Linked DNA regions of Homo sapiens: region 1 is linked to region 2. A link means that fine-mapping ties the variant in region 2 to the expression of a gene that starts in the linked region. Tissue or cell type: tibial nerve. Region 2 holds a variant in brackets; the other region holds the start of a gene. All regions are shown on one strand. Distances are between the middles of the regions. Region 1 holds the start of ZWINT (ZW10 interacting kinetochore protein). Region 2 has its middle 34 kb from the start of ZWINT.

The links. PIP is the estimated chance that this variant, and not a neighbour inherited with it, causes the effect.
Region 1: it holds the start of ZWINT, and the variant in region 2 is fine-mapped to the expression of ZWINT in tibial nerve (GTEx, PIP above 0.99). The same link has a PIP of 0.9 or more in breast and cerebellar hemisphere.

The regions. Positions count from the first base shown.
Region 1 is chr10:56,358,797-56,364,109 of GRCh38, reverse strand. ZWINT (ZW10 interacting kinetochore protein) reads left to right here and starts at 2,851. Exons shown (of 9, transcript NM_007057.4): 1 at 2,851-2,914; 2 at 3,727-3,817; 3 at 3,969-4,092; 4 at 4,257-4,423; 5 at 4,578-4,634; 6 at 5,163-5,305. The coding sequence starts at 2,874. It overlaps LOC124902546 (a long non-coding RNA gene), which reads right to left and starts at 2,651. Exons shown (of 2, transcript XR_007062372.1): 1 at 2,254-2,651; 2 at 1-85. RefSeq lists a silencer at 2,584-2,793 and enhancers at 2,884-3,053, 2,402-3,141, 3,881-4,621, 3,767-4,966.
Region 2 is chr10:56,392,288-56,397,677 of GRCh38, reverse strand. No RefSeq gene overlaps it. Among named protein-coding and RNA genes, the nearest start is that of ZWINT, 34 kb to the right of the region's middle. The variant A/G (reference allele first, on the strand shown) is at 2,073.

The DNA of each region.
Region 1 (5,313 bases), 34 kb after region 2:
CCACCTCGGCCTTCCAAAGTGCTGGGATTATAGGTGTGAGCCACTGCATCCAGCCTAGTTAGTCTTCATTTTTGAAAGCTGTTTGCTGGAAACAGAAATCAAGGTTGACTTTTTTTTATTCTTACAGTACTTGAAAGATGTTACTCTACTGTCTTGCTTGCATTGTTCCAAGAAGAAATTTCCCGTAATCCTTATCTTTGTTTCTATGTAACATGTGCCCCAACACCCCTTATTACTTTAGAATTTTTTATCAATGGTTTTGAGTTATGCAATTATGGTATAACTTGATGTCATTTTCTTAATATTTCTTGTGTTTGAGATTTGTGAAGCTTCTTGAATATATGAATTTATATTTTTCATCACATTTCAAATTTTTTGGTCTTTATTACTTGTTTTCTTGTCCTCTCCCCTTGCCTCTCTGAGACTCCACTTTCAAGTATATTATTAGGCTGTTAGAAGTTGTCTCACAGCTCACCATTGATTTGTTCATGTTACTTTATTTTCATTTTTTAATGTTGTGATTGATTTTGGGTAGTTTCTCTAGAGCTGTGTTTCACTTTCATTCTGCAATGTGTAACATACTATATTAATACCATCTAATTCCATCTATCACATTGTAGTGTTCACCTCTACAAGTTTGATTTAGGTCTTTATTACAAGCTTTGTGTCTTTGATTAACTTTTTTAACAGCTTTTATGACAGCAGTAAAGTGTAAATTTAGCGGTTTTCTGTATAGAATTGTACAACCTTCACCATAACCGAAGTGTAGAACATTTTATTTATCCCTTTAAAAGAAACACTATATCCATTTGCAGTCCCTCCCCATACTCTCTCAACCTCTCATTCCCACCAATCCCCAGCCCTGGACAAGCACTATATAAATTTACTTTCTGTTGCTATAGATTTGTCAAATCTAGACATTTCACATAAATGAAATAATATATTATGTGGTCTTTTGTAATTAGCTTCTTTCACTTAGTATATTTTCAAGGTTCATATTTTAGCATGTAGTAACCATTATTTAGCATGTAATAAAGTTCTCTTTACTACTGATTAATACTTCATTGAATGAAAGTATGCATTTTCACTCACCAGCTAATGGGCCTTTGGGTTGTTTTTACCTTTCAGCTTTTGTGAATAATGCTGCTATAGAGGTTTGTGTACTTTTGTGTCCCCATGTTTTTATTTGTCTTGGATATATAACTAGGAATGAAATTGTGACTCATATGGTAACCCTACGTTCAAAGCCTATGCACCAGTTTACATTTCCATCAACATGAGAATTCCACTTTCTTTACATCCTTAGCACCACTTACCTTTTTCATTATAGTTCTGATATCTTTTTGAAGATATGGGATATAGTTACAATAACTGTTTTAATGTCCTTGCCTGTTGATTCTAACATTACTTCAGTTCTGATCAGCAATTGATTTTTCTCCTCATTATGTGTTTTTTTTTTTCTTTTTGCAAGCTTGGTAATTTTTCTTTGTATGACATATGTAAATTGCACCTTTGGTGAACATTTTTCTATTTCTATAAATACTGCTGAAGTTTGGTCTTGTCATCTGTCATGGTTTGTTAAGTTTGATCCATTTGGGTCTTACTTTTAAGAGTTAGATGGCACTACAGCACTGATCAGCTAGGACTAATTACTGCCTACTAAATAATTAGTAAACAACTATCAAATCAAGACTTTTTTGTGTGTACTCTGTCCAGTGTCCTACGGACTATGAAGTTTTCCAGCCTGGTTAGTGGAAATAGAGACTATTTCTGACCCTCTGTAATGTCCATATATATATATTTATATATATATATATATGTATTTTTTTTTTTTTGTGAGACGGAGTCTCGCACTGTCACCAGGGCTGTAGTGCTGTGGCGCAATTTCGGCTAACTGCAACCTCAGCCTCCCTGGTTCAAGCAATTCTCCTGCCTCAGCCTCCCGAATAGCTGGGATTACAAGCGCCCACCACCACGCCCAACTAATTTTTTTTGTACTTTTAGTAGAGACGGGGGTTTCACCATGTTGGCCAGGCTGGTCTCAAACTCCTGACCTCGTAATTCACCTGCCTCAGACTCACAAAGTGCTGGGATTACAGACGTGAGCCACCGCGACCGGCCATGTCCTGGTATCTTTAAAAATCTTTTAGCTAGTTTCTTGAGACACATACTGCTCAGTACTCAGCTGAATGAATACCAAGTTCTCTCTCAGCAGTTATCTTTCTCCTGTACTCTGCAAAGAACATTACCTACCTTGGTCTCCCCAGAATATCTGTTCTATTTTGCCAACGCAGGCAATCGGCTGGGCTCTGCTTGAGTTCACTCTCCTGCATCGCATCTATAAAATACTAATATCTTTGAAAGCAGCTCGCTTTTTGAGCGCAGATCATTTGCTTCCTGTATCTCCCGGATCACTATTCTTTACTGATTCCCAGCGTCTTAGAAACAGCCCCACTGTTTTTCGGGGTTTTGTTTTTTTTTTTCTACAGCAGTAGTGAATATTTTAAATAAAGTGTCAATGCTGTAAGTTTCCCTTAAAACGCAAACTCAAGGAAATGCTTTCCCTTTTTCGAGTAGAGAAAGAACTTCCACAGGCGCGCGGTCGAGCTCAAGCCCACTTATAGTCTCTGGCACCGCGTAAGGACTAGCGCGCAGGCGCAGAGCCCGTGCGCGCCTAGCCATAACCGCGCTTGCGCCAAGCAGCGAGGCCCGCCAACGAGCGAATCCGCGCCTGCCAATTAGAGCGCACAATGGTCCTTGATGCCCGCCCACTAACCTCTGCAGCCAATCGCCTGCCCCGGCGCGAAGTCGACTGTGACTTCAAAGTAATCTTAGGGATTGTGGGAAGGCAGCTGAACTCGGCGCCTGGAAAGATGGAGGCAGCGGAGACAGAGGCGGAAGCTGCAGCCCTAGAGTAAGTGTTTGCGGCTAAGTGGCAGCTGGGGCCGGGCCTGGGAGGACCTTGTGGGCCCCTATGTGTAATGATTGGTGCCCTCGACCCTGTACAGCTGTTGAGGTTCGACCCTGCCGTGAAGTGATCCTCACCGCAGTCCCGTCTTAGGTTCCTGAGGTGTCTGTTGCCTGCTCCAGGAGTACAGCCTTTGGGGGACCGTTCGCCGCTCCCCACATCCACATAATCCACAGGATGTGCTCTAGGAGACGGTTTCACTTCTGTCTTCTTGTCCCAACACGACACATTCCCAGTCACTTCTCATCCCCATCCCTGCCCCTTCGTAGATTGCTCCAGTCCCTAATAATGAAAAACCCTAGAGTAGACCGAGGCATCCAGCCCTCTGCCCTGAGTCCTTTCTCAGCTATTCCAAGACTCTGCCCCAAGGCTGGTGCTCAGCGCCAGGAGGGATCCCAAGGCCCAGCATTCTTCCCCTTCCTTGCATATCTCCCTGGCTTCCTTCACATCTTGACTCAAATGATTTCTCTTCAGTGAGACACTCCCTATTTAAAATTTCAGCTCTTTTCTCAAACTCCTTATCCACTAGCCCTGCTGATTTTCCTTTTGGCACGTATTACCACCGTGTGCCCTCCATGCACGCCATTCCTGGTTGCAGGCTGTGGACCCTTCAGGCCCTTGTGTAAACTCTGGTCAAGGCAAGACTCTCAATACTATATATACTGATATACACATCCACATTTGTTTGTGTACACACACGAACTGTAGAACTAGCACCACAAGAAACTGCAATTTCCTGTGTTTCCTTGCCCCTCCAGGGTCCTGGCTGAGGTGGCAGGCATCTTGGAACCTGTAGGCCTGCAGGAGGAGGCAGAACTGCCAGCCAAGATCCTGGTTGAGTTTGTGGTGGTATGTACAAGATGAGAGCGAGCCTTTCAGAAGCCAGGGTCTGGTCCTGGCTCCTCTTACTGAGATACAGGGCAGCACTGGCAGAGAGCAGACTTAAGGAAACCTGTAAGGAGGTAAGGATGTTCCCTGTCTCTGCCCTCCCTCTGAGCAGGACTCTCAGAAGAAAGACAAGCTGCTCTGCAGCCAGCTTCAGGTAGCGGATTTCCTGCAGAACATCCTGGCTCAGGAGGACACTGCTAAGGGTCTCGACCCCTTGGCTTCTGAAGACACGAGCCGTGAGTAGGCAGGGGATTGTAGTAGCAGCTGACCTGAGTGGGGAAGGAAGGAGGATTTCAGTTAGGTCTCCCATTTGGCTGATGGGAAGGAGGCCCAGTGTTGCAGGGAGGCAGGCTAGCAGGCCACCCTCACTCATGTACTCATTCCTGGTGGCTCATCTCAGGACAGAAGGCAATTGCAGCTAAGGAACAATGGAAAGAGCTGAAGGCCACCTACAGGGAGCACGTAGAGGCCATCAAAATTGGCCTCACCAAGGCCCTGACTCAGATGGAGGAAGCCCAGAGGAAACGGACACAACTCCGGGAAGCCTTTGAGCAGCTCCAGGCCAAGGTACACCCAGGGGTCTTGAGTACAGGGAGGGAAGGGCAGTTAGAAAGGAAGAGGGAAAGAGTGAGCAAGCTGAGTTGTGCCAGCTTGCAATCTCCCAAAATTCTAGCCAGAAAAAATAGACTTCTCTTGGTCTTTCTCCCTTGCTTATCTGTAGAAACAAATGGCCATGGAGAAACGCAGAGCAGTCCAGAACCAGTGGCAGCTACAACAGGTAGGTTCGTCCCCCTAGGAGAATATCCCTTCCCACCACCATGCCATTGTATCGGCTGTGTCCCCTGTCTAGAAAACCGTTTTGCTTCCTCCTTTGAGGCACTATAATATAAATACCAACATGGGCTTGAATCTCAGTGTCACCACTTACCACTGCATGATCTTGGGCAGGTCACCTAACTTTCTGTTTCTTTATTTAAAATGAAGGCAATAATACCACCTACTCTAGAGAGTTATTAAGATGATTAAATGATCATTACAGCAAGGACTTTAAAATAGTACCTGGCACATAGCAAGTTAAATAAGTGTTATCACCTTTGTGCCCCTTCCCCGCAAGAATGCCTCACCCTAGAACAGCTCATTCTGATCTTTCCTTTTCTCTAGGCCCCTACTCCACCCTGAAGTGAATAGAGTCCCTCTTTTCATCATTGAGCCTGAGCCCTGAGCTGGGTGTAGGCTGGAGGGGTTGGAGGGAGTTTCTAAGACTTCAACATCTGATGCATAATGTCTGCATGCTCACTCCTGGCAGGAGAAGCATCTGCAGCATCTGGCGGAGGTTTCTGCAGAGGTGAGGGAGCGTAAGACAGGGACTCAGCAGGAGCTTGACAGGGTGTTTCAGAAACTTGGAAACCTGAAGCAGCAGGCAGAACAGGAGCGGGACAAGCTGCAGAGGTAAGTTC
Region 2 (5,390 bases):
AGGAGGATCCCTTGAGCCAAGGAGGTGGAGGTTGCACTGAGCCAAGATTGTGTCACTGCACCAAAAAAAGAAAAACAAAAACAAAAAGAATCAGCTTTAGCATCACCCATGTTTCACCTCTGAAAACATTCCATGCAAGTATTTGAACAAAGGATCTATGATAGTTAATTTTAGGTGTCAATTCGGAGGGTGTATTTGGATGAGATAAACATTTATTTATTTATTTATTTTTATATTTATTTTTTCAATTTGAACTATTATTTTAGATACACAGGGTACACATGCAGGTTTGTTATATAGGTATATTGCACCCAGATGGTGCATATAGTAAAATAGGTAGTTTTTCAACCCACATCTCCCTCCTTCCTTCATCCCACTGGTAGTTAGGAGTGTCTATTGTTCCCATGTTTATGTCCATAAATGTTCAATGTTTAACTCTCATTTATAAATAAAAACATGTACTGTTTAGTTTTCTTTTCCTGTGTTAATTCTCTTAGGATTATGGCCTCCAGCTCTATTCATTTAATGCAAAGGACATGATTTCATTCTTTTTAAGGCTGAATAGTATTCCATGGTATATATGTACCACATTTTCTTTATCCAGTACACCCATTGATGGGCACTTAGTTTAATTCCACGTCTTTGCTACCACAAATAGGGCAGTGATAAACATATGAGTGTATGTATCTTATTGGTATAATGATTTAGTTTTCTTTGGGTTTATAGCCAGTAATGGGATTGCTAAGTCGAATGGTAGTTCTAGTTTAAGTTCTTTGAGAAATCTTCACACTGCTTTCCCAATGGCTGAACTAACTTATATTTAAACCAACAGTGTATGAGCATGCCATTTTCTCCCCAGCCTCACCAGCATCTGTTGTCTTTTTACTTTTAGTAATAGTCATTCTGACTGGTGTGAGATGGTAGAGATTAACATTTAAATTGGTGATCTTTGAGTAAGCAGACTGGCCTCCATAATTTGGATGGGCCTCATCCAATCAGCTGAAGGCTTAAATAGAACACAAAGACCAGCCTCTCACACTGCCTTCAGGCTTCATCTGCACATCAGCTTTCCTGGATTTCTGCTTGCAAGTTTTCAGATGAAACTGAAACATCAGATCTTCTGGGTCTCAAGCCTGATGGTTCAGGTCACACTTCAGATTTTGGACTTTCCAGCCTCCATAATTATGTGATCTAGTTTCTTATAATGAATCTCTTTATATATATATAGTGTTCTGTTCCTCAGGAGAACACTAATATAGGACCTGATATATATTTTTCTAGAAAATAAACACAAATATTAAAATACGTAACTTTATTACTATAACTGCATTGCTTTTACAATACATTTCCATTCTGTCAAACATAAAAAAACAAAAAACAAAAAACCTTGCCAGTTTGGATTAATCCCATTTATTTGTAAATTTCTGTAGCCAACTCAAGATTTTTCTATAACTCTTTACACTCTAGACAGATTCTAAGTCCCAGGGGCTTTTCACAGTGAAAGAGTGATAGCACAGGAGAGACAACAATGACTCGGACATTTTCCTGAACATCGTCTATTTATTTATCCAAATTTACCATTCAACTATCTTTTGTTAAGATCCATATTTTAAGAAATTTCTTCTCTTGTAATTTGCTTTCTCATTTCTGTGGGATGTATTTTCCGGTAGCTTCCTAAAAACTGAAGCATTAGAAAAAAATATTTGAGAAAACCGGCTAGCCATATGTAGAAAGCTGAAACTGGATCCCTTCCTTACACCTTATACAAAACTTAATTCAAGATGGATTAAAGACTTAAACATTAGACCTAAAACCATAAAAACCCTAGAAGAAAACCTAGGCATTACCATTCAGGACATAGGCATGGGCAAGGACTTCATGTCTAAAACACCAAAAGCAATGGCAACAAAAGCCAAAATTGACAAATGGGATCTAATTAAACTCAAGAGCTTCTGCACAGCAAAAGAAACTACCATCAGAGTGAACAGGCAACCTACAAAATGGGAGAAAATTTTCACAACCTACTTATCTGACAAAGGGCTAATATCCAGAATCTACAATGAACTCAAACA[A/G]ATTTACAAGAAAAAAACAACCCCATCAAAAAGTGGGCGAAGGACATGAACAGACACTTCTCAAAAGAAGACATTTATGCAGCCAAAAAACACATGAAAAAATGCTCACCATCACTGGCCATCAGAGAAATGCAAATCAAAACCACAATGAGATACCATCTCACACCAGTTAGAATGGCAATCATTAAAAAGTCAGGAAACAACAGGTGCTGGAGAGGATGTGGAGAAATAGGAACACTTTTATACTGTTGGTGGGATTGTAAACTAGTTCAACCATTGTGGAAGTCAGTGTGGCGATTCCTCAGGGATCTAGAACTAGAAATACCATTTGACCCAGCCATCCCATTACTGGGTATATACCCAAAGGACTATAAATCATGCTGCTATAAAAACACATGCACACGTATGTTTATTGCGGCACTATTCACAATAGCAAAGACTTGGAACCAATCCACATGTCCAACAATGATAGACTGGATTAAGAAAATGTGGCACATATACACCATGGAATACTATGCAGCCATAAAAAATGGTGAGTTCATGTCCTTTGTAGGGACATGGATGAAATTGGAAATCATCATTCTCAGTAAACTATCTCAAGAACAAAAAACCAAACACCGCATGTTCTCACTCATAGGTGGGAATTGAACAATGAGAACACATGGACACAGGAAGGGGAACATCGCACTCTGGGGACTGTTCTGGGGTGGGGGAGGGGGGAGGGATAGCATTAGGAGATATACCTAATGCTAAATGACGAGTTAATGAGTGCAGCACACCAGCATGGCACATGTATACATATGTAACTAACCTGCACGTTGTGCACATGAACCCTAAAACTTAAAAGTATAATAATAATAAAAAAAAATATTTGAAACTTTGCAAATTTTTCTACTTTTGCATTTCATGCTAGTTTGGGCATTAAATCACATGTTGAAAGTAATTTACCTCAAGTAAATGTAAATTTCAAAAATAAAATATTTTTCACTTATCAAAATGGAAAAATTTTTAAACTGTGGATATTACTATGGTAGTAATTAGTATACTATAATGGAAATTATAACGTTTCTAAAAAATTATTTTACTACAGTATTTACAGTCATTTTACTTCATTTTGTTTCTTTAAGAAAATATTACAAATGAAAAACCTGAGAATGTTGGCAAAGATGTTTTGTATAAAATATTTTTAATTTAATCTACATAATTTCCAAATTATTTCCAGCCCAAATCTCTCTTTAACATATAAACTGTAACATTTAGAATATTAACTTTACCTCTAATTTTTTTCAAGCTCTCATCCTATATACATTTTAAGCCAACAGTTACCTCCTTCATAGATATATACTAAAGACTAATGAGGTACATTTTAAAAGTTATCTTTTCATTATAATTTTGCCACATTTTGGGCAGTTGGACTTGTCTCTAGAGAAGCTATAGCTATTAGCTTTGTAAAGTAGAAATAATATCCTATTTAGAAAAAGGAAGGATTTTGTGCATTTGGGAATTTTTTTTTTACTAATTAATGACTGACCATGTCACTTAGATTTGGTAAAAACGTACCATCTTTATTTTTCTGAGAAAGAATGGAACACACAGTTGAAAAATAATGTGATTAATATAAACTTGCATAAGTGTTTATTCAGTACATAACTATTCCCCAAAGCTCACAAATAGCGTTACCACATATAAATACAGTATAAAGTGGGAAAAACCACTCACTGAATAAGCAGCAACATGGATAAAGAAAACAGGCATTCTAAATCCTAAGTGATGACTTGTTAGCTGTATTACCATATCTAAGTCACTTGACAGCTCTGCTTCTTGCCTCTGAAATGGAAATTACAAATTTTCATCAGACTAAAGGCAGCTGATTATACTTAATGCTCTTTTCAGGCCTCAGGTAATTCTGGAAGGCATTATTCTCATATTAAGGTGATTCAATCTATCAAAGTGAAGTGATCTGGATGTTTGTGATCTCTCAAAATTTGTGTATTATATACAAACCCCCAAGGTAGTAGAAGGTAGGGCCTTTGGGAGATCATTAGGTCATGAGAGCTGAGCCTCATGAATGGAACTAGTGCCTTTATAAAAGAGAACTAAAGGAGCTCATTCCCAATTTCCAACATGTGAAGACAGGGGCAAAAAGATCACTGCCCAAGAACCAGTAAGCAGGCACTCACCAGATACCTAATGTACTGCATCTTCATCTTGGACTTGTCAACCTCTTGCAATGTGAGAAGTAAGTTGTTTATAAACTACCCAGTTTATAGTGATTTGTTATAGCAACCAAAAACTAAGTGTTATGGTTTTTCAGATTTGTGTCACATTGTTTGAGCTCCACTTACTTTCACTAGTGATACAGAGAACATTCCTTGGATTACAAATCCAGTCATTCAGCAATGGTTAGTTACACAATGAACTTCTGTGTGTAAGTTTTTAGGAAAGAGACATGCTCACATACATTTCTTATTCTCCCTTTTTATTCACTCTGCAATTATTATATTCATTTTTCATGAGAAACATAGCATAGTTTCGTAACTGTTAAATATGCCATTATATATTTTTAAAATTTAAAAATGTTCTATTTCTTTAAATTTTTTTTGTTTAATAACTACCCCACATGCAGAAACACATATTCAAATGCTTTTCCTTCCCTCAATAGAGTAATTTAATGTGTGTATATGTATTTATTTTATAATGAAAAGAGGCACTGATTAATAGAGTGAAGTTATTAATGCAATTTATGGCCTTCATTCTTAAAACACAAAGTATTATTTGCCAAAATTATTGTTTAATGTTAATGTCCCTCCATGATTCATTTTTCTAGACAGGGAAATGAGATAAAATCATTGCAGTATTTATAATAGGAAACAAACTTTCATTCCCAACGAACAAATACAGCATGATACAAAAATGGTTGTAGGAAGAGTAAAAGTGATCTAATCAATTATTAAATAAAGGAATGTGACTTCCAGTACAATGATTAGATAATTTTGGATGGTTCAAAGTTATGGAATCATATTGTATTTCCAACTGATGATAAGATGTGTGTATTAATCTGCTTGGACTGCCATAAAAAATGCCGCAGACTTGGGTGGCTTAAGCAAAAGAAATTTATTTTCCCACTCTTCTGAAGCCTGGATGTCCAAGATCAAGGTGCTGGCAGGGTTGTTTTCTGCTAGGATCACTCTTCTAGGCTTGCAGACTGCCACCTTCTTGCTGTGTCTTCACACGGTCTTTTCTCTGTGTGCATGTATTCCTAGTTTTTCTTATTATCGTAAGGACAGTAGTCTTACTGGATTAGGGACCAATTTAACC